Linked DNA regions of Homo sapiens: regions 2 and 3 are each linked to region 1. The links come from fine-mapping of genetic effects on gene expression. A gene starts in region 1. Each other region holds a variant in brackets. All regions are shown on one strand. Distances are between the middles of the regions. Region 1 holds the start of CASC3 (CASC3 exon junction complex subunit). Region 2 overlaps WIPF2 (WAS/WASL interacting protein family member 2). Region 3 overlaps THRA (thyroid hormone receptor alpha).

Region 1 (8,051 bases):
AGTTTTTAATTTTTGTTGAGTACACAGTAGGTATATATTTATGTAGTACATGAGTTTTGTTTTTGTTTTTGTTTTTTGAGACAGAGTTTCCCTCTTGTTGCCCAGGATGAAGTGCAATGGCACAATCTTGGCTCACTGCAACCTCCACCTCCTGGGTTCAAGTGATTCTCCTGCCTCAGCCTCCTGAGTCGCTGGGATTACAGGCACCTGCCACCACGCCTACTTAATTTTTCTTATTTTCAGTAGAGACTGAAAATGGGTTTCGCCATGTTGGCCAGGCTAGTCTCGAACTCCTGACCGCAGGTGATTCACCCGCCTCGGCCTCCCAAAGTGCTGGGATTACAGGTGTGAGCCACCAAGCCCGGCCCATGAGATATTTTTATATAGATATACAATGTGTAATAATCATGTAAGGGTAAATGGGGTATGGATCGCCTCAAGCATTTATCCTTTGTTACAAACAATTCAATTACGTTCTTTTATTAATATATATATATACTTTTTTTTTGAGATGGAGTCTTGCCCTGTCACCAGGCTGGAGTGCAGTGGCTTGATTTCGGCTCACTGCAACCTCTGCCTCCCGGATTCAAGCGATTCTCCTGCCTCAGCCTCCTGAGTAGCTGGGACTACAGGGGCGTGCAAGCACGCCCAGCTAATTTTTGTATTTTTAGTAGAGACGAGATTTCACCATGTTGGCCAGGATGGTCTCAATCTCTTGACCTTGTTATCCACCCACCTCAGCCTCCCGAAGTGCTGGGATTACAGGCATGAGCCACTGTGCCCAGCCAATAGTTATTTTTAAATGTACAATAAGTTACTGGTTGACTGTAGTCACCATGTTGCAAATATGAAATTCTAGATCTTAGTCATTTTTATTTTTTAAATTTTCTGAGACAAGAGTCTTGCTCTGTTGCCCAGGCTGGAGTACAGTGGTGTGATTATGGCTCACTGCCACCTCCACCTCCCAGGCTCAAGGGATTCTCCTGCCTCAGCCACTTGAGTAGCTGGAATTACAGGCATGCGGGACCATGAGCTGCTAATTTTTGTATTTTTAGTAGAGATGGAGTTTTGCCATGTTGGCCAGGCTGGTCTTGACCTCCTAGCCTCAAGTGACTGGCCCACCTTGGCCTCCCACAGTGCTGGGATTACAGGTGTGAGCCATCGCGCTGGGTTTAGATCTTATTCATTCTAATTACTATTCTTTTTGTACCCCTACAGCCTTTCTTTTATTTATTTATTTTTTTTTTTTTGAGACAGAGTCTCACTCTGTCACCCAGGTAGCAGTGCAGTGGCATGATTTCAGCTCACTGCCACCTCCATCTCCTGGGATCAAACGATTTTCGTGTCTCAGCCTCCCAAGTAGCTGCGATTACAGGCATGCATCACCACACCAAGCTAATTTTTGTATTTTTTAGTAGAGATGGGTTTTTTTTTTTGAGACGGAGTCTTGCTCTGTCACCCAGGCTGGAGTGCAGTGGCACAATCTCAGCTCACTGCAAGCTCCGCCTCCCGGATTCACACCATTTTCCTGCCTCAGCCTCCCGAGTAGCTGGGACTACAGGCGCCCGCCACCACGCCCAGCTAATTTATTATTATTTTTTTTTGTATTTTTAGTAGGGACGGGGTTTCACCATGTTAGCCAGGACGGTTTCGATCTCCTGACCTCGTGATCCGCCCGCCTGGGCCTCACAAAGTGCTGGGATTATAGGCGTGAGCCACCGCGCCGGGCCAGAGATGGAGTTTCACCATTTTGGCCACGTTGGTCTCAAACTCCTGGCCTCAAGTGATCCGTCTGCCTCAGCCTTCCAAAGTGCTGGGATTACAGGCGTGAGCCACTGCTCCCGGCCCCTGTGGGCTTTCTTGACTGTTGTTCTCTCTGCCTAGAACACATCTTACCCAGCCAACTGTTTAATCTTTCCCGACTGCCTAAGATGGATTCAGTACCCAGCTGTAACACCCTACTTAGCCCTATCCCAGTGCTATCCCCTATCAGCAAGTGGTACAATTGCTTGAATGTTTGTCTGACTTCCTTATTGAGTTGTAAGATCTCTAAAGATAGGAATTTTGTTATAGTGTTCACTATTCCATCCTCAAGGGCTTAACAGATTCTAAAATGTAGTAACAGTTCTAAAAATGTATAGACAAAATCTTTGATCCACCATCCAATTCCCCCTATATATAATCCCATTACCAGAACTCAGGAGTCCACTCAACAACCCAGGAAACAAACACTTACTCTGATGGCATCTCTAGTAGTTTATCCAAAAGACAGGAAACTTTCTCCTAAAAACAGAAAAATCCCCACCTATAAAATGATGGATGCTCTTGGCACAAAACATTCCGAATCCTACCCTTTCAAAGTCTTCAGATAGATTTGGAAAAAAATAACCAATTGGCTGGCTTCTCAACCTACACTGCATAAAACAAACTGTCAAACATCTTTCAGAGGACTTCAAGATATCCTCACTCTCTTATTTAGAACCTCATATTCTTCAGACAGGAAGAGAAGCCAACTAACAGTATAACACCTGTGGCTTGAGACGGCGTGCCCCAAGTTTTCCCTAGGTCTAAAGTGAACAAGACCTTCTGTAACACTTTTTCAGAAGCATAAATGAAGAATACACAAGAGGATAAACACGGAGGTCATGGTACGTTTGCAACGAAGGTGTGTACACGTTTTTAAAAAGCATTTCTGATCTATACCATAGGAAAAAACCTGTCATACTCACTTCCGAGTCTTCTGCACTTTCATAATCCGAGAGAACAGCTGAAATAAAACAGAAATATGTGGAAAAAAAGAAACCCAGAAACATTTTTTGGCTGCTTATTACAGGTCAGACTAAGAGTCTCATTTAATTCTGACATCAACCTACAACGTGGATAAAATTATAGTCCCCACTTACAAAAGGAGAAACAGGCTCAGAGGGTAACTTGCTGAAGACTATACTGCTAAAGCCTATGCTCTTAACCACTATGTTACAAAAAGGCACTCTGTGGCCCTAAATCCGTGACAGTGTGTGAGAATGTCGATGTTGGAAATAGATGACCTGAGTTTATGTTAAAAAAAACTCTTGTCCTAATGGGGTAAAAGATGCTACTCACCATCACCTTCAATGCCATCTTCACTCTCCTGAAAGAAAGCAGAAGACATGGGTTAGTTCTGTGATTTCCAGAGGTGGGGAGCCCAATAAAGAAATGTGGGTGAAAAGCTGAAGATTCAGCACAAAATGGTTGGAGAGGGAGACAGAGATAGGTAAATCTTTATCAAGTAGTAGCCAAGGCAGGTCTGGTCTCCTTCCCTCCAGCCCCGACTTCTGAATAAAACATCCGCTTTCCATCTCCAGCGGCTCTACCATCCTCCCAGAAACCCCCAATCCTTCTTCTTCCCTTGGAACTCCGGATGCAAACTCGCATTGGGATAACTCCCCTTTTCTCTCAAAAACAAAAAAAAGTCCCAGTATCTACTATCAACTCACAGACTACCTAGCATCACCTACACCCCGCCCCCGGCCGGCTCGCCGCCCGGTCCCCACCCCGCCCCGCCTGCGCGCACTCACACACTCCGACTCCTCAGCACTCTTGGCGCCCCCGCTCTCCACCCGCCGCAGATGAAGGGCCCCGGTTCGGCCTCCGCGCTGTGAAGGCAGAGAGCCGCTGCCGCCGCCTCCGGCGCTACCGCTGCAGCTCCCGCCTCCCCGCAACGGGGAGCCGCCGCTGTCGGAGCCCGAAGCACCAGATTCCTCGTCCTCGGTGTCTTGCGAAGCGCGCTGCCGCCGCCGGTCCGCCATCTTACGGAGAACGGCCACCACCGGCGAGGTACTTACGCACCGCGCCCGTCGCAGAGGCTGCTGGGAGGCTGGATAGCTAGTCCCGGCGTGCTACGCGTGCGGCGCTCGGCCATCCCGCTGTGTGTGTGTGTGTGTGTGTGTGTGTGTGTGTGTGTGTGTGTGTGTGTGTGTGTGTTGGGGTGTGTGTGTGTGTGTTGGGGTGTGTGTGTGTGTGTGTGTGTGTGTGTGTGTTGGGGGAGGGGCGGGGCACTGGGCGGGGCCTAGGCCTGCGGCACGTTTGCGGCCGACCCGGATTACGTCTATCGGTGATGTAAGGGGGCGTGGCGCGGCTCCTGACTTCCCTTGGGCAGGCCTAGGGCGAGGGGAATTGAGACTTCAGCAGCCTCCCGGGTTCCTGGCCCGGCCATCTTGGGCTTCCCGAGTGGAAGGAGTCAACCTGTCACAGCTTCACTGCAACACTAGGGCTGTTTCATGGTTTTCTGTTTCCATTTCTCACTTCTACCTACGTTTGAAGCAGGTCAATTTACTGCATTCCTTTGCTTGGTAAAATCACGAATCAAGGTAAATCTTAAAAGCTGTAGTGCTGCGTCAGATTTGCTGCACCAGCCTTGTTTAAGATAACGGGCGAAGGAGAAACCAGTTGTCTGCAGTGAAGCCAGAGGACTTCTTGTTGCAGCGTTTTCTCTGTGTTCTCATTTCCTCTTCACGTTTCTTCCCACCCCAGCCATCACCTGTCCCAAAGTGCAGGCTGGTATGATGCCAGTATTACCGGTTTTGTTTTGGCTTTTTCGAGGCAGGGTCTCACTCTGTTGCCCAGGCTGGAGTGCAGTAGCGCGGCTCACTGCAGCCTTGACCTCCCAGGCACAGGTGACCTCCTTGCCTTAGCTTCCTTAGTAGTTGGGACAACGGGCACACACTACCACACCCGGCTAATTTTTCTGTTTTTTGTAGAGATGGGGTCTCGCTCTTGCCCAGGCTTGTCTCCTGGCTGGGATCAAGCGATCCTTTCGTCTCAGCCTCCCAAAGTGCTGGGACTACAGGCATGAGCTACTGCCCTTGTCAGGATTTTAGAACCTATTTAAAAATAAATGGTCAGTAGAAACAGATGTTGATTCAAAATCCTGACATTATTTCCTTCTTAAGGTTTATGGAAATTATTTCATTTTGGCAAGGCATTGGCCACCATTGAAAAGAATCAGTGTGTTTTCTTTGGACCATTATAAGGATATACAAAGTGCATGAGCTAAGTTTTTAGTGCACCTACAGGAGTGCACGTTAATAATGTATGTTATCAAACAAAGGCCACCATGGCATAGAATTCTTCCCTGAGTAAAATATTTTTTTTTTTTTTGAGAGGGAGTCTCACTCTGTCTGTCGCCCAGGCTGGGGTGCAGTGGGGTGATCTCGGCCCACTGAAAGCTCCGTCTCCCGGGTTCACGCCATTCTCCTGCCTCAGCCTCCCGAGTAGCTGGGACTACAGGTGTCTGCCGCCAGGCCCGACTAACTTTTTATGTTTTTAGTAGAGATGAGGTTTCACCGTGTTAGCCAGGATGGTCTCGATCTCCTGACCTCGTGATCCGCCGTTCTTGGCCTCCCAAAGTGCTGGGATTACAGGCGTGAGCCACCGCGCCCGGCCTTTCCTGAGTAAAATTTTTATAAATGACATGGTTAAGGATCCTGATGTTTATCAAATTTATAGATAACATGAAACTGGAAGTAATTATGAATGCCTTCAGAGATGAAAGGAAAATTCAAGGCCGGGCGCGGTGGCTCACGCCTGTAATCCTAGCACTTTGGGAGGCCGAGGCGGGCAGATCACGAGGTCAGGAGATCAAGACCATCCTGGCTAACACGGTGAAACCCCGTCTCTACTAAAAATAAAAAAAAATAGACGGGCGTGGTGGCAGGCGCCTGTAGTCCCAGCTATTCGGGAGGCTGAGGCAGAATGGCGTGAACCCGGTAGGCGGAGCTTGCAGTGAGCCGAGATCGCGCCACTGCACTCCAGCCTGGGAGACAAAGAGATTCTGTTTCAAAAAAAAGAAAAAAAGAAAATTCAAACAATCTCAGCTAATTAGACAAGTGGCCAAACGTGACAACTTATAAGTCCAGCTCCAAAAGCCAACTGCCTGAGTTCAAAATGGAGGATAATATGATTTAATAAGTGTTAAAGAAAAAGAACCTGGAGGATCTTATCGATCACAGACTAAATTGGTGCAAATAAGGCTGCCAAGTTTAGTGTCTAAATAAGGAAAGTGATAGTCTGCCACTTTGTCCTTCAGTTGTTTAGTCTGGGTCCAGTTTTTTTTTTTTTTTTTGAGGGGGACGGAGTCTCGCTCTGTCGCCCAGGCTGGAGTGGAGTGGTGCGATCTGGGCTCACTGCAACCTCCGCCTTTCAGGTTCAAGCGATTCTCCTGCCTCAGCCTCCTGTGTAGCTGGGATTACAGGCGCGCACCACCACGCCCAGCTAATTTTTGTATTTTTAGTAGAGACGGGGTTTCACCATGTTGGTCAGGCTGCTCTTGAACTCCTGACCTCGTGATCCACCCGCCTTGGCCTCCCAAAGTGCTGGGATTACAGGCCTGAGCCACCGCGCCGGGCCTGGAGCCCACAGCAATCTTTAACTAGGGACTATGAAGAAAGGAGGGATTGGTCTTTTTTTCATCATCCTAGAAGGCAAAGCAAAAACCAGTGAGTTTAAGTTACAAGAAGTTAGATTTTTTGTCAACAAGCAAGAATTTTCAAACACTTAGGGGGAAAAATGTATGTAGAAAAAGTGTTGAAGCACAGCCTGGAATTTGCTTGTCTGGAGTGTTATCAAGGGTAAATCACATATCGGGGTCACACTAGATGACCTCTAATGTCTTTCCAGCTATAAGATTTTGTTAACTTACGAAGTATCCTATAATCTCGTTTCTAAAATTGCTAATTATACTTTTTTTTTTTTGGAGTTGGAGTCTCCCTCTATCACCCAGGCTGGAGTGCAATGGCATGATCTCGGCTCACTGCAACCTCTGCCTCCTGGGTTCAAGCAATTCTCCTGCCTCAGCCTCCCGAGTAGCTGGGATTACAGGTGCCTGTCACCAAGCCTGGCTAATTTATTTTATTTTTAGTAGAGACAGGGTTTCACCGTGTTGGCCAAGCTGGTTTCGAACTTCTGACCTCAGGTGATCTACCCACCTCAGTCTCCCAAAGTGGCTGGGATTACAAATGTGAGCCAACACGCCCGACCCTTTTTTTTTGTTGGGGGTGGGTGGGATGGAGTCTCGCTGTCACCCAGGCTGAAGTGCAGCAGCTTGATCTTGGCTTACCACAACTTCCACTTCCCAGGTTCAAGAGATTTTCCTGCCTCAGCCTCCCAAGTAACTGGGATAACAGGTGCATGCCACCACATCTGGATAATTTTTGTATTTTTAGTAGATGGGGTTTTACCATGTTTTACTGTGTTGGCCAGGCTGGTCTTGAACCTCTGACCACAAGTGATCTGCCCACCTCAGCCACCAAAGTGCTGGGATCACAGGTGTGAGCCACTGCGCCCAGCCAAGTTGCTGATTATACTTAAGGAAGTACACTGGACAAAGAGGGATGAAACATACATTATACTTATACACAAATGGAAGTGAGTACCTTATTATAAAGGGGAAAATAATGTGTTATTCTTTTTTATTGAGAAAATGGATTTCTTTTTCCAATGTTTCAAATATACAAGCAGAATTGTTTGTTTGCCAATAAATATAATAAATTGAAGCAGAAGTTCAAAAATTAACAGCCACAATAGTTTATTTACAATTGAACTCTTTATAAGATATTTACAAGACAACCAATTTTACACATCAGAAATGGTATCAAAAGTTATGAATTACAACACAGACAACAATATGAAATGGGCATAAAACAAAGCTGAAGTAGACAGACAAGCAATTTTTTTTAATTTATTAACACTAGCTTAAACTTTGTTAAAGAAAAACAAACAACTATGTTTTAGGAGAACTGCAGGGCCTTCAGTTGAAGATTGAATTCACAGTGTTGTATCCCATGTAGGGAAAAATAAGACTAATTTTCCCCCCACACTCTAACACACTGTAATTTTGCACTTGGAACTTTGCTAATCTACTGTCCAACCTCCTTCTCAACAAAGTCAAATCAAAGGAGAATTAACCTAGAAGAGGGGACAATAAAATAAGAGGTCCTCAGGGAGAGGGAGAACCAAGGAAATAGAATCTACTTAAATCTGGCCAGATAGCACCTCGTGGATTCTTCTCAGTC
Region 2 (8,051 bases), 86 kb before region 1:
GTCAACATTCCCTAACAGTAAATAAGTTTTTTCTTTTTTTAAACACTCCTCCCTGCTCCTCCCACTAAAAGTAAATAGGTTTTCTGTTTCCTAAATAGCAAGTCTGGTAAACTAACAATCCCATCATCCCCCATAATCTAAAAATTGTTCCCCAATAAGCCTAATCTCCAAAACAATTTCTAAGATCCTAAAATTTTAAGAGCTAATCCAGCCAACCAAGTTTGATTTGCAGGACCTATGAGAAATCAAGACTAAAAGAATAGGTTTCATCCAGGAAAGTTCTTATAAAAACTGTTTCACTGCACAAGCATCAGACTTCTTTATGACACTGATGGTCTCATCATCAACACTAGTAAAAGAACTGACAGGAAAAAAAAAAGCCCTATTTTAGAAGCTGACCTCAAAATTCACTATCCTATTACTCTTTTAGTTGTTGTTTTTTGAAACAGGGTCTCACTCTGTCTCCGAGGTTGGAGTGCAGTGGTGCTGCAACAGCTCACTGCAACCTCCCTCTCCTGGGGCTCAAGTGATCCTCCTCCCTCAGCCTCCTGAGCGGCTAGAACCACGGGTGCTCATCACCATGCCCAGCTAATATTTTAATTATATAGAGACTGGGGGGTCTCCCTATGTTGCCCAGATTGGTTGTGAACTTCTAGGCTCAAGTGATCCTCCCACCTTGGTCTCCCAAAGTGTTGGTATTACAGGCATGAGCCACCATGCCAGCCTATTTACCCATTTTTTAGGACAGCTCACATTCTGAAGCCTTGCCTCCTACCTGTCTGTTTTTCACTCCCTAAGCTCCAGCCACACTGGAACCTCTTTCAATTCCTCAAAATACAAACATTCTTTCCCTCCTCAGGACATTCACCTGTGCCATCTCCTCTACCTAGGTCAGTCTTTTGTCCTCCCTTCATTCTTAGGTTTCACCCTTAAAAGTCAATTCCTCAGAGACCTTCTCTGACTGCCCTTCCTCTCAATCAACCTGGGATGGGCTAACCATTAGCTGTCTCCACAGCATTTACAGCAACAGTAATAATTATTTGTTTAATAAATGTCTTTGGGCCAGGCACGGTGGCTCACACCTACAATCCCAGCACTTTAGGAGGCCGAGGCAGGAAGATCACTTGAGGTTAGGAGTTTTGAGGCCAGCCTGGCCAACATGGTGAAACCCCATCTCTACTAAAAATACAGAAAAAATTAGCCAGACATGGTGGTGCACCTGTAGTCCCAGCTACTTGGGAGGCTACAGCAGAATGGCTTGAACCTGGGAGGCAGAGGTTGCGGTGAGCCAAGATCATGCCACTGCACTCCAGCCTGGCTAATAGAGCTAGACTCTGTCTAAAACAAATAAATAAATAAATGAATAAATGTCTTTGGCCAGGTGCGGCGGCTCACACCTGTTATCCCAGCACTTTGGGACGCCGAGGTGGGCGGATCACCTGAGGTCAGGAGTTCGAGACCAGCCTAATAAGGAGAAACCCCGTCTCTACTAAAAATACAAAATTAGCCGGGCGTGGTGATGCATGCCTGTAATCCTAGCTACTCGGGAAGCTGAGGCAGGAGAATCGCTTGAACCCGGGAGGCAGAGGTTGCGGTGAGTTGAGATCATGCCATTGCACTCCAGCCTGGGCAACAAGAACAAAACTCATCTAAAAAAAAAAAAAGACCAGCCTGGGCAACTTGGCAAAGCCCCACCTCTACAAAAACTACAAAAATTAGCCATGGTGGCATGCATCTGCAGTCCCAGCTATTTAGGAGGCTAAGGCAAGAGAATCACTTGAGCCCAGGAGGTGGAGGTCGCAGTGAGCCAAGATGGGAATGAAACCTTGTCTAAAAAAAAAAAGTCTTCCACCGTAAGTGGAAGACCAAGTCAGGGCCAGGTGTGGTGGCTCATGCCTGTAATTATGGCACTTCGAGATAGGAGGACTGCTTAAGCCCGAGTTCAAGACCAGCCTAGGCAACAAAGTGAGACCTCACGTCTACAAAAAATTTTAAAAATTGTGCACACACCTGTGGTCCCAGCTACACAGGAGGCTGAGGTGGGAGGACTGCTTGAGCCCAGAAGGTTGAGGCTACAATGAACCATGTTTGCACCACTAAATTCCCGCCTGGGTGACAGAGAGAGACTCTGTCTCAAAAAAAAAAAGACCAAGAAAATTTGTTCACTGCCCTATCTGCATCCCCTGCATCCCCTACCACAGTACTTGGCACACAGTAGGAACTCAAAAATTCTTGTTGAATAAATGAATAACGAACATCAAAAAAAATCAGCTTCAGCAATTCTAGTTCTAAGAATTTACCCTACAGACACAGTCATATATGCAAAGAGCCAAATATATATGCTTCTTCACTGCAGCATAGTTTGTAATAGCAAAAGACTGGAAACTGTGTATGTCTATCAGTGTAAGGTAGGTGCCAAGTATCTTTATTGCTGATAGGGAGTAACAGTCAAAAGAGGTATAAAAATGGCCGGGCGCGGTGGCTCACGCCTGTAATCCCAGCACTTTGGGAGGCCGAGGCGGGCGGATCACGAGGTCAGGAGATCGAGACCATCCCGGCTAAAACGGTGAAACCCCGTCTCTACTAAAAATACAAAAAATTAGCCGGGCGTAGTGGCGGGCGCCTGTAGTCCCAGCTACTTGGGAGGCTGAGGCAGGAGAATGGCGTGAACCCGGGAGGCGGAGCTTGCAGTGAGCCGAGATCCCGCCACTGCACTCCAGCCTGGGCGACAGAGCGAGACTCCGTCTCAAAAAAAAAAAAAAAAAAAAAAACAAAAAGAGGTATAAAAACAAGCAAAAGATACAGATAGTATTAACAGTGTGCTACATTTATTAAAACAACAACAACAAAAAAAAAAACAAGAAATATACATATTTGCTTTATATGTACCTGGTATCTCTGGAACAAACTTTTTTTGTTTTTTGTTTTGTTTTGAGACAAAGTCTTGCTCTGTCACCCAGGCTGGAGTGCAGTGGCACAATTTTAGCTCACCATTCCGCCTCCCAGGTTCAAGTGATTCTTGTGCCTCAGCCTCCCGAGTAACTGGGACTACAGGCACACACCACCATGCCCCGCTAATTTTTATATTCTTAATAGAGACAGGGTTTCACCATGTTGGCCAGGCTGGTCTCCAACTTCTGACCTCAGGTGATCCGCCCGCCTCAGCCTCCCAAAGTGCTGGGATTACAGGTGTGAGCCA[C/T]CGCAACCAGCCTGGAACAGATCTAAAGAAAATAATAATACGAGTTGCCTCTGGGAAGATGAACTGGATTGATAGGAAGACAAACATAGATGTTTCCAAGGGTATTCACTATATACTTTCTTTTTCTTGGCAGGTGAGTTGATACATACTCCTTAGTGGATTCTGACTTCCATGGCCACCATCCTGCTTATATACTTTTTTATCTTTTAAATTTTGTATTATTTATTTAAAATATAACATTTGTGGCCAGGAGCAGTGACTCACACCTGTAATCCCAGCACTTTGGAAGGCCGAGGCAGGCAGATCACGAGGTCAGGAGTTTGAGACCAGCCTGGCCAACATGGTGAAACCCCGTCTCTACTAAAAATACAAAAATTAGCTGGACGTGGTGGCACACACCTGTAATCTCAGCTACTTGACACGGTGAGGCAGGAGATTGCTTGAGCCTGGGAGGCAGAGCTTGCAGTGAGCCCAGATCTTGCCACTCCACTCCAGCCTGGCTGACACAGTGAAACTCTGTCTCAAAAAAAAATAAATAAATAGGCTGGGCGTGGTGGCTCACGCCTGTAATCCCAGCACTTTGGGAGGCTGAGGCGGAAAGATCACTAGGTCAGGAGTTCAAGACCAGCCTGGGCAACAAGGTGAAACCCCACCTCTACTAAAAAATACAAAAATTAGTTGGGCATGGTGGCGTGCACCTGTAATCTCAGCTACTCAGGAGGCTAAGGCAGCAGAATCGCTTGAACTCAGGAGGCAGAGGCTGCAGTGAGCCGAGATTGTGCCATTGCACTCCAGCCTGGGCAACAGAGCAAGACTCAGTCTCAAAAATAATAATAATAAATTTAAAAAATTAAAAAAATAAAATTTGCTAAAAACAGTTCTGTTCTTATTTCTAAGACAAGGAAAGAAGCAGTTTAAATGTCTCACATCTGGATCTTAGATAATAAACATCCTCCCTACTAGGTGAGCACTGGGAGGGCAGGAATGGAAGAAGGAAAAGTCCACTTATCCACAAATCTCAGACATCGCATCTCATACTAGTGTACTACCTTAGAAGAAAATTCCAAAGGCCGGGCACAGTGGCTCATGCCTGTAATCCCAGCACTTTGGGAGGCCAAGGTGGGCGGATCGCGAGGTCAGGAGTTCGAGACCAGTCTGGCCAACATAGTGAAATCCCGTCTCTACTAAAAATACAAAAAAAAAAAAATTAAATTAGCCGGGTGTGGTGGTGTGCGCCTGTAATCCCAGCTACTCGGGAGGCTGAGGCAGGATAATCGCATGAACCCGGGAGGTGGAGGTTGCAGTGAGCTGGGATCGCACCACTGCACTCCAGACTGGCCGACAGAACGAGACTCCATCTCAAAAAAAAAAAAATTTTTTTTTTTTTTTTTTTACCAACTATCCCAATCTGAATACATATGGAGAATGTTTTCACAGTCAGAGGGATTATTGGGAGGAAAAAAAAAGATTATTCGATTCAGCATTTCCAGAAGCACAGAAAGTAGGTCAGTGAATTTGCACTTTAGAAATATCATAATTACTTGCTAAAAACAAATTATTTCCACTGAGGGGCCTCAAAATCCAAATGGCACTCAATTTGAATCCATGAAGCTTAAGAAACTAAATTTTTTTTGAAAATCAATTATAATGGCTGAGCCTGGTGGCTCACACCTATAATCCCAGCACTTTGGGAGGCCGGCAAAAGTTCAAGACCAGGCTGGGCAACATGGCGAAACCCCATCTCTACAAAAAATAAAAATTAGTGAGGCATAGTGGCGTGCGCCTGTAGTCCCAGCTACACAGGAGGCTGAAGTGGGAAGAACACCTGAGCCTGAGCCTGGGGAGGTCGAGGCTACAGATCACGCCGCCACACTCCAGCCTGGGCAAGAGAGAGAGATCCTGTCTCAAAATAAAAAGGGAATGATCTTCACGATCCATCCCAAAACATATTGGAGATAACCCTACCTTTAGCTAACTATCCCCTGAAAAACAAGAGAGTATTTACTAAGTAGAACACATTGTTGGATAGCCATTCCAAATTGCTCTAACTTTGCCAAGCTTAAATGGCAAGGAAGAAACCAATTCCTGGCTCCCCTATTTGATAACTTACATACTTCTGCAGGCTCTTAAGCCAAAATGAGCCAAAATCTTAAAGAGAGTTAAGACTGACATAGACATTAGCAAACATATCACCTTTTTTTCCTATTAACATTGTTGTTCCCCATAAAGGTCTATTCAGCATTTTTTTTTTAGTAGCCCTCTGTAGATATCAAGAAATGCTCATAAATTTAGCCTGTAGTTCCTCAGGCTCAATGGCTTGTGAGAAAAGAAAAAAAAAAAAAAAGTTGGAAATACTGTCTTCTCTTCCACAATGCCCACGAAGCTAGGCAAAGGCAATGATTCTGCATTTAATCACTAGATGAATAAGAAACAGACTTGAATTTAGAAGAAAGATAAAGGACCGCAAGAACATTCAGTAAAGAGTACTGCCTCTATTTCTTTGCAAAGCAGCTCTCAGGATCTGCCAATGAACCTCATTTTGACATGGAACGCCCCATCCACTCTAATCCGGGGCATATCCCTCAAGACACAGTCAGTCAACCGGAACTCTGCCAACTTTTGCTTGGGAGTTGTGTGAAGAATAGTAGCAACAAGAGCCTACTTTGAGAAGGAGATCAACAATCACACTCAAGAAGAAAAGAAGTTATTTGGCAAAGGGATGCATGTTGCCAAAATGTTAGTCACAGCTTCAAGGGCCCAGTTTGTGTCTCTACAACTATTCTTTGCTTTGACAGAGGCCATTATCTGACCCAGGAAACAGCTCAGCTTCTGTCACCCTCCCCATCTGAAGCAGTGAAGAATCCTTTCAATTTGGTAGTATCAAACTGTGACACAGACAAGATGTCCACCAGAGACTAAAAGGGGAGAAAAAATGTGTAATTTGCCACTTTCTACATAGGACTGGCTCAAGCAGAGCAACGGAAAACTGTGACAGGATAGGAAAAATGGAAAATCATTATGTTAAAGAAGCAGGCTGGGCCGGGCGCGGTGGCTCACGCCCGTAATTTCAGCACTTTGGGAGGCCGAGGCGGGTGGATCACAAGGTCAGGAGATCAAGACATCCTCGCTAACAAGTTGAAACCCCGTCTCTACTACAAAAAAAAAAAAAAAAAAAATACAAAAAATCAGCCGGGCGTGGTGGCAGGCGCCTGTAGTCCAGCTCCTCAGGAGGCTGAGGCAGGAGAATGGCGTGAACCTGGGAGGCGGAGCTTGCAGTGAGCCGAGATTGCGCCACTGCACTCCAGCCTGGGGGACAAAGTGAGACTCCGTCTCAAAAAAAAAAAAAAAAAAGAAAAGAAAAGAAAAAAAAAATAAGCAGGCTGTACCAAAAGTCCGCCCAGGAGCACCGAGCCTCCATATGTTATCTCAAAATCCCCTTAAAAAACAAACCAAAAAGGTACACTGTAGGTTGCAATAGCATAATATTAAGCAGGTTTTTACTCCCAAATAAGTACATATATTTTGTAGCCTGCAACTCTTCCTGGGGTTGTAAGAAGACTATGTTTGCTGAAGCTGCCTGAACCAAGAGCCCATGAATTTCACAGTTATTTCAGAGCAGGAAAACAGACTAACATATACCAGGTTACTCTCCCAATCAGAGAACACAAGTAAAGAAAGAACATTTAATAATTTTCTCGGGCCGGGCGCGGTGGCTCACGCCTGTAATCCCAGCACTTTGGGAGGCCGAGACTGGCAGATCACAAGGTCAGAAGTTCGAGACCAGCCTGACCAACACAGTGAAACCTCGTCTCTACAAAAATACAAAAATTAGCCAGGCGTGATGGCACCCAGCTACTCAGGAGGCTGAGGCAGGAGAATCGCTTGAACCTGGGAGGTGGAGGTTGCAGTGAGCAGAGATCATGCCATTGCACTCCAGCCTGGGCAACTGAGCGAGACTCCGTCTCAAAAAAAAAAAAAAAAAACCCAAAAAAAAATTTTCTCTTCAACAGAACAAGACTTCTGTCTCTTGCCTCTTGCCTTTTTTTTTTCCTAAAAACACCTAGTGAGTCTAGAATCTCTTCCCTTCGTAAAAGCCATCAGTAAAACCTGAAAACTCCAATGTTCACACCTCTCCTGCATTTCACCTTGGTGCTATCACATAACTTATCAGTACCAGCTAGGGTAAACACTACTCTAGTATCAAGTGTGAGGTGGAATTAGTAAATGACCAGCCTGGCCAACATGGCAAAACCCTGTCTCTACTAAAAATACAAAAATTAGCCAGGTGGCACATGCCTGTAATCCCAGCTACTTGGGAGGCTGAGCCAGGAGAATTGCTTGAACCCAGGAGACAGAGGTTGCAGTGAGCCAAGATTGTGCCATTGCACTCCAGCCTGGGCAATACAGCAAGACTCTGTCTCAAAATAAATAAATAAACAAATAAAAAAACAAACACTACATTCTACTAGTCTTCATCAATTGACTTCATTCATCTCCACCTTCCCCAACTCTTAACTTCCCTATCTTCATCTTGATGGCAACCAATGTAACACAATATGAAATTTTTACTTTTAAAAGTTGACATTAATAAGAGTTAAAAAACTAAACATGCGGCCAGGTGTGGTAGCTCATGCCTGTAATCTCAACACTTTGGGAGGCCGAGGTGGGTGGATCACCTGAAGTCAGGAGTTCGAGACCAGCCTGACCAACATGGTGAAACCCCATCTCTACTAAAATACAAAAAATTAGCTGGGCGTGGTGGTGCATGCCTATAGTACCAGTTACTTGGGGGACTGAGGCAGGAGAAGCGCTTGAATCCGGCAGGCGGAGGTTGCAGTGAGCCAAGACTGCG
Region 3 (8,051 bases), 57 kb after region 1:
GAGCCCAGATCGCGTCACTGCACTCCAGCCTGGGTGACAGAACGAAAATCTGTCTCAAAAAAGAAAAAAAAATTATGCCTGTGAGTTAGCACCCATCATTATCCCCAGCCCACTCCAGATGGGAACACTGAGGCACAGGGGATGGAGGTAACTTACCCCAGGTCACATGGCTAGTAGGGCAGCCTGTCTCCAGCACTAGTGCTCTGGAAAATGAGAACTTTCAGGCTGCCTGGAGTTGGGTGGCCGCATAGACTTGAAGGATGAGGGGCTGTGGAGGGGAGCACTTGGAGCCGGCTGATTTCTTAGAGCAGCCAGACCTTGGCGTGTGTCTGTATGCTGTGTGTGTGTGCCTGTGTGTTTGTGTGTGTGTCTGTATGTATCTATGTGTGTGTCTGCTAGGTGTGTGTGTGTGTGTGTGCCTGTGTGCTGGGTGTGTCTGTGTGTGTGTGTCTGTGTGCTAGGTGTGTGTCTATGTATCTGTGTGTCTGTGTGCTAGGTGTATATGTCTGTGTGTGTGTGTGTGTCTGTATCTGTGTGTGTGTGTCTATGTATCTGTGTGGCTGTGTGCTAGGTGTGTGTGTGTGTGTGCCTGTGTGCTGGGTGTGTGTCTGTGTGTGTGTGTGTGTCTGTGTGCTGGGTGTATATGTCTGTGTGTGTTTCTATGTATCTGTGTGTGTGTTTGTGTACTAGGTGTGTGTGTGTCTGTGTGCTGGGTGTATGTGTGTGTGTATGTGTGTCTGTGTACGTATCTGTATGCTAGGTGTGTGTGTGTGTCCGTGTATGTGTCTGCATGTGTGCCTGTGTGCTGGGTGTATGTGTATGCATGTGTGTGTGTGTGTCTGTGTATGTTATCTGTGTATGTTGACCTACAGGAATTGCTCCTTGTCCAGAGAACCTCAGATGAGCCTGTACTGGGTGACCGGGGGAGCAGGTTTCCCTCCAGCACAGCATCACATCTCTCCCCACTTCTGCCACTCACCTCGGAGAACATGGGCAGTTTTTTGGCAAAGTCCACCACACGGGTGATGGCCGGGGTGATGATCTTGGTAAACTCGCTGAAGGCTTCCAGGTCCACCTTGTCTCCGTCCGGCATGGAGACAATGGGTGACTGGCCAATGTCATCGGGCTAGAGAGAAAGACGGGGGTCAGCTGGGGCCGCAGACCCCTTTCAGCCTCTCACTGAGGCTCCCTGCCCACCAGGGGGAGCTCCAAGGCAGCTTGGGGAAGAGGGGCCGCCCGTGCCTGAGTCCCAGGCCCAAAGCTTTTCCTTCATCTTGAGCAGAGAATAGACCAGAACCAGAGCTCCAAGTCAGCTAATAATAACAACGGTAGTAACAGTAGTAGCAGCTATAATGACTGAATACTTAATATATGATCAGGCATCAGGCTACATGTTTTACATGTCTTATTTCATCCTGACCATAATCCTAAAAGGAATAATTATAATAATCACCATTTCACAGATGTGGAAACTGAGGCATGGGGCAGCTAAATAATAAGGTTAAAGTCATATGACCAGCAAGTGGTAGGACCAGGGTTTGAACTTGGGCAGTCTGACTCGTGACTGTTACACATCTGCTTGGAATCAGAGCCCGTGCCCTTAACAGTGTGCACTGTGCCACCCCCCGGCATGCTCCACCATGAACCAGGTGCTGGTTTTCTGCCTTCCTTCACCACGTATAGCCAACTGTCCATCTCCTCCCAAACTGATCATATTTTTTGAGAGAGGGTCTTGCTCTGTTGCCTGGGCTGGAGTGCAGCGGTGTAATCATGGCTTACTGCAGCCTCGACCTCCCAGGCTTAGGGGATCCTCCTGCCTCAGCCTCCCGAGTAGCTGGGACCACAGGCACACACCCCCATGCCCAGCTAATTTTAAAATTATTCGTAGAGAGGCCGGGAGCAGTAGCTCACACCTGTAATCCCAGCACTTTGGGAGGCCAAGGCAGGCAGATCACCTGAGGTTGCGAGTTCAGACAAGCCTGACCAACATGGAGAAACACCGTCTCTACTAAAAATACAAAATTAGCCGGGCGTGGTGGCGCACGCCTGTAATCCCAGCTATTTGGGAAGCTGAGGCAGGAGAATCGCTTGAAGCCGGGAGGTAGAGGTTGCGGTGAGCCAAGACTGTGCCACTGCACTCCAGCCTGGACAACAAGAGCGAAACTCCAACTCAAAAAAAAAAAAAAATTATTCATAGAGGGTGGGCATGGTGGCTCACATCTTGTAATCACAGCACTTTGGGAGGCCGAGGCGGGTGGATCACTTGAGGTCAGGAGTTCGAGACCAGCCTGGTCAACATGGTGAAACCCTGTCTCTACTAAAAACACAAAAATTAGCCAGGCATGGTGGCCAGTGCCTGTAATCCCAACTACTCGGGAGACGGAGGCGGGAGAATCGCTTGAACCCAGGAGGCGGAGGTTGCGGTGAGCCGAGATCGTGCCACTGCACTCTAGCCTGGGTGAGAGTGAGACTCCGTATCAAAAAAAAAAAAAATTATTCATAGAGGTGGGATCTCTGTATGTTACCCAGACTGGTCTCAAACTCCTGGGCTCAAGCGATCCTCCCACCTTGGTCTCACAAATTGCTGGGATTACAGGCATGAGCCACTGCACCTGGTCCCAAACTCATCATTTACTTAGCAACTAGCTTGACCAGGGCCTAACATAATGCCTGGCACCCAGCAGGTGCTCAAAAATACTGTGACATAACTGTATCCTTACCCTCTCCTCCCAGTCACTAAGGGCAGGAAAAAGAAGAAAGGTCGCTCCCGCTCCCTGGAAATTCGATGAGGAAGGCAAGGCCCTGTCCTCATTGAGCTCCCAGTTGGATGGAGTAGACAGTCCAGACAGCAAGGACACAAACACAAGTGTATAAAATCTGGACAGCAAAAGTGTGAAGAGTATGTATTTTGGGTTGGATTACACTAAGAAGACTTCCTGGAGGAGGCAAGACTCCGAGCTCACTCTCTTCTCCCTGCCACCTGGCTACTGCTCTCCCCATGCCCCCTTTCTCCTTACCAGGAATTTCCGCCTCTGTTTCCAATGGCTGCCCTGGGCATTGGTGCTGCGATGGGCCTCTGTGGCAATGTGGATCAGATCCCACTCTTCAGGAGTGGGCTCTGGTCGCTGCTGCAGTGATCGGATCATCTCCTCCTTCCGCCGCCGCTCCCGGTTCTGCTCAATCAGCTTACGCTTGGCCACCCGCTTCGAGTCATCTAGAACCACTGTGAACAGAGAGGCACAAGGTCTAACGCATGGCACCCTCCATCCCCTTTCCATAATGCTCCCGGAAACTACTCTTCCTAGAGTACAGGTTGGAGAAACCGAGGGCCATGGAGGCTAAATGACTTCCCAAATCACCTAGCAGTTGGGCAGCACAACCCGGATCATGATTAATCCCCGGGACCATGTCAACAACAGTTTGGGCTGATCCAGATGAATATCATGTTCTGGTCTAACG[G/C]ATTATGGTGACGGTGGTTACTCGAATATCCTGCCACCCAATCCCCAGCCAATGGAAGATGCCCTGTCTCATCTAGAAGTGGGGTGCCTTCGCTGGGAGTCAAGAACAGTGTGCTAGAGTGGGTGCCCAGGAGCTCTTTCTACCAAACGACTCCCTCTCTAAGGCCCTCGAGTGTTGTAAGGCAGGTAGGCATTGGGGCCCACACAGGGATCCTGTTTCCTTTTGCGCAGGAAGGAGGACAGCAAGGACCAAGACACTGAACATTCTGACCTAGACTGGATTGCCACTCTGCCCTGTGGGCTCTGAGGGTACCCTGGAAGGAAGCTGCCCTCCCAGAACTCATCCCCACCCCAGGCCACCTGGCTCTATTCCCTCCACCTGGGCCCCTTACAGTCCATGGCCATGCCCACGGCGATGCACTTCTTGAAGCGGCACAGCTGGCACTGATTGCGGGTGATCTTGTCAATGACACAGCAGCTGTCATATTTGCAGGAATAGGTGGGATGGAGGTTCTTCTGGATTGTGCGGCGAAAGAAGCCCTGGGGTGGGGGAGATGGAGCAGGCTGTGATCATGACATGGCTTCCCCTTCCTGAACCAACCATGCAGTTTACTAGGGGTCAGGGGTGGAGAGCAAGGAAGGCAAGATCAGTGAGGGGACCTGGCATCCTCCTGACACCATGAGCCCAAGATTACTAGGCTCAAGGACCTGAGAAATATATGCCCTCAGCCCCCAGGCTGCTGAGGGGTTGGGGGTGTCTGGGTAGTGTTTGTGGCAGAGGCAGGAATGATGTCTAGAGCAGGCAGCTTTGAACCTGGGATAATGTGAGGCCTTAAGGAATAGCAGCTTTGGAAATCCAAGTCGCCGGGCGCGGTGGCGCACGCATGTAATCCCAACACTTTGGGAGGCCGAGGTGGGCAGATCAACTGAGGTCGGGAGTTCGAGACCAGCCTGACCAACATGAAGAAACCCTGTCTCTACTAAAAATAGAAAATTAGCCGGGCATGAGGTTGGGTGCAGTGGCTCATGCCTATAATCCCAGAACTTTGGGAGGCCAAGGCGGATGAATCATGAGGTCAGGAGTTCAAGATCACCCTGGCCAACATGGTGAAACCCTGTCTCTACTAAAAGTATAAAAATTGGGCGTAGGCCGGGCGCGGTGGCTTATGCCTGTAATCCCAGCACTTTGGGAGGCTGAGGCAGGCGGATCACAAGGTCAGGAGATCGAGACCATCCTGGCTAACACGGTGAAACCCTGTCTCTACTAAAAATACAAAAAAAATAGCCGGGCATGGTGGTGGGCGCTGTAGTCCCAGCTACTCGGGAGGCTGAGGCAGGAGAATGGCGTGAACCCAGGAGGTGGAGCTTGCCACGAGCCAAGATCGCGCCACTGCACTCCAGGCTGGGTGACAGAGCAAGACTCCGTATAAAAAAAAAAAAAATTACCCGGGCGTGGTGGTGGGCGCCTGTAATCCCAGCTACTCAGGAGGCTGAGGCAGAGAATTGCTTGAACCCAGGACACAGAGGTTGCAGTGAGCCAAGATCGCGCCACTGCATTCCAGCCTGGGTGACAGAATGAGACTCCATCTCAAAAAAAAAAAAAAAAAAAAAAAAAAGCATGCGATTCTATAGTGTAGCAGTTATCACATCTGCTTTACATGCAGAAGGTCCTAGGTTTGAGCCGCGGTGGAACCACGGCGGGGTCCACCCCTTGGCCGGGCGCGGTGGCTCATGCCTGTAATCCCAGCACTTTGGGAGGCCCAGGCGGGCAGACTGCCTGAAGTCAGGAGTTCAAGACCAGCCTGGCCAACATGGTGAAACCCCATCTCTACTAAAAATATAAAAATTAGCTGGGCCTGCCCCTGTAATCCCAGCTACTCGGGAGGCTGAGGCAGGAGAATCGCTTGAACCCAGGAGGTGGAGCTCGCATTGCACTCCAGCCTGGGTGACAAGAGTGAGACTTCATCTCAAAAAAGAAAAAAAAAAGAAAAAATTAGCCGGGAATGGTGGCACATGCCTGTAATCCCAGCTACTTGGGAGGCTGAGGCAGAAGAATTGCTTGAACCCAGGAAGCAGAGGTTGCGGTGAGCCAAGATTGTGCCATTGCACTCTAGTCTGGGCAACAAGAGCAAAACTCTGTCTCAAAAAAAAAAAAAAAAAAAAAAAAGGAAATCCAAGTAAAACCTCATTTTCCATTTTGCTAAATGACTTTAAAAACAACACTGACCCAAAAACCATTCTCATATATGTTGCCTGTTGTCCATGCAGGTGGAATTCATAAAACAGGGGAACCAAAAAAGTCAAGGAAAGGGACTGAGTATGAACTCTAGTAGGGGAAGAGAAAAATTTCAATTCTCTACATTGGGATTCACCTTTATTTTATTTTTTTAATTTAATTTTTTTTTTCTTTTTGAGATGAAGTTTCACTCTGTCACCCAGGCTGGAGTGCAGTGGTGTGATCTCAGCTTACTGCAACCTCCACCTCCCAGGTACAAGCAATTCTCCTGCCTCAGCCTCCCGAGTAGCTGGGACTACAGGTGCCCACCATTACGCCCGGCTAATTTTTGTATTTTTATAGAGATGGGGTTTCACCATGTTGGCCAGGCTGGTCTCGAACTCCTGACCTCAGGTGATCTGCCCACCTCGGCCTCCCAAAGTGCTGGGATTACAGGCGTGAGCCACCGCACCCAGCCTCGCCTTTATTTTAAAGGAAACACCTCAAAACTCAAGATGATTGCAATAATATGAAGAATTAGTATTTTTTCATGTTTACAATGTGTCAGTCACTTAGTAAACATAAGCCTTGCTGGCCAGGTGCAATGACTCACACCTGTAATCCCAGCACTCTGGGAGGCTGAGGCAGGCAGATCACTTGAGGCCAGGAGTTCAAGATCAAGACCAGCCTGTCCAACATAGCAAAACCCCATCTCTACTAAAAATACACAAATTGGCCAGGGGTTGTGGCGTGCACCTATAATCCCAGCTACTCTGGAGGCTGAGGTGGGAGGATTGCTTAGGATTGCTTGAGACCAGGAGGTCAAGGCTGCAGTGAGCTATGATCGCACCACTGCACTCCAACCTGGGTGACAGAGACCCCATTACAAACAAAAACAAAAACCCAAAAGATAAGCCTTGTCTTTCATGGAACATCACAGTGAACCCTCCAGACAACCCTATGAGGTAGGAACTGTTACTGCCTCCACTTTGCAGACAAGGAAACTGAAGCTTGGTGAGATGAAGCAATTTGCCCAAAGTCATGTGGCCGGTGGGCAGCAGAGTCAGAACTGGGCCTCAGGTATGGGACACCAACGTCTGAGCTCTCAGATTCCAGGGGCATTAAAATCACCAAAGGCAGCCGAGTGCGGTGGCTCACGCCTGTAATCCCAGCTCTTTGGGAGGCTGAGGTGGGTGGATCACGAGGTCAGGAGTTCAAGACCAACGTGGCCAACATCGTGAAACCTTGTCTCTACTAAAAATACAAAAAATTAGCCAGGTGAGGTGGCAGGCACCTGTAATCCCAGCTACTCAGGAGGCTGAGGCAGGACAAGTGCTTGAACCTGGGAGGCAGAGGTTGCAGTGAGCCAAGATCGCGCCACTGCACTCCAGCCTGGGTGACAGAGTGAGACTCCGTCTTGAAAAAAAAAAAAAAAAAAAAAAGTCACCAAAGGCACCTACCAAAGATACAGATTCCTGGGCCTCACTCCAGAACTACAAAATAAAACTATCCAAGGGTGGGGCCAAGGCATCTCTGTCTTTTCAGGGTGCTTCCCTGGGACTCAGATGTCCGTGAGAGTAAAAGATCCTTTCTCTATGCTACACTGTTTGTATTGCTTCCAGAAGGATTGTATTGCTTCTGCTAGGGAACTCTAAATCCCTCATGGTCTTGGTTTGGTTGACATCAAGAAAGAGAGAGAAACTTCAAGCCTTAAACTTTTTTTCCGTTTTTTTTTTTTGTTTGTTTTTTGTTTTTAAGACAGGGTCTTGTTCTGTCGCCCAGGCTGGAGTGCAATGGCTTAATCACAGCTCACAGCAGCTTCGACCTCCCAGCCTCAAGTGATCGTCCTACCTCAGCTGCCTGAGTAGCTGGGACCACAGGTGTGTGTGCACCACCATGCCTGGCTACTTTAAAAATTTTTTTGTATGGACAGGGTCTCACTATGTTGCCCAGGCTGTTCTTAAACTCCTGGGCTCAAGCAATCCTCCCACCTTGGCCTCCTAAAGTGTTTGGATTACAGGCGTGAGCTACTATACCTGGCCTTTAACATATAAATCATTCTGTTTCTTTTTTTTTTTATTTTGAGACAGAGTATCACTCTGTCGCTCTGTCACCCAGGCTGGAGTACACTGACTTAATCTCCACTCTCACTGTAACCTCCATCTCCCAAGTTCAAGAGATTCTCCTGCCTCAGCCTCCCAAGTAGGTGGGATTACAGGCGTACATCACTACACCTGGCCAATTTTGGTATTTTTAGTAGAGACAGGCTTTTACCATGTTGGCCAGGATGGTCTCAAATTCCTGACCTTACTCATTCGTTCATTTGCTCATTCATAATCCCTCCTCTGTCACTCACAAGAAAATTGCCTAACTTCTCT

Evidence for each region. PIP is the estimated chance that this variant, and not a neighbour inherited with it, causes the effect.
Region 2: its variant is the best candidate, but not a certain one, in a credible set for the expression of CASC3 in whole blood (INTERVAL, PIP 0.75).
Region 3: its variant is the best candidate, but not a certain one, in a credible set for the expression of CASC3 in whole blood (INTERVAL, PIP 0.86).

Annotation. Positions count from the first base shown.
Region 1 is chr17:40,136,286-40,144,336 of GRCh38, reverse strand. CASC3 (CASC3 exon junction complex subunit) reads right to left here and starts at 3,800. Exons shown (of 14, transcript NM_007359.5): 1 at 3,558-3,800; 2 at 3,103-3,130; 3 at 2,730-2,767. The coding sequence starts at 3,788. MSL1 (MSL complex subunit 1) reads right to left here. Exons shown (of 9, transcript NM_001365919.1): 9 at 7,420-8,051. RefSeq lists enhancers at 3,484-3,783, 3,249-4,189.
Region 2 is chr17:40,222,731-40,230,781 of GRCh38, reverse strand. The region is part of intron 1 of WIPF2 (WAS/WASL interacting protein family member 2); the gene reads right to left. Among named protein-coding and RNA genes, the nearest start is that of WIPF2, 7.5 kb to the right of the region's middle. RefSeq lists an enhancer at 5,684-6,255. The variant C/T (reference allele first, on the strand shown) is at 3,200.
Region 3 is chr17:40,079,782-40,087,832 of GRCh38, reverse strand. It overlaps THRA (thyroid hormone receptor alpha), which reads right to left. Exons shown (of 9, transcript NM_199334.5): 5 at 3,851-3,998; 6 at 3,018-3,223; 7 at 980-1,126. Among named protein-coding and RNA genes, the nearest start is that of NR1D1, 17 kb to the left of the region's middle. The variant G/C (reference allele first, on the strand shown) is at 3,460.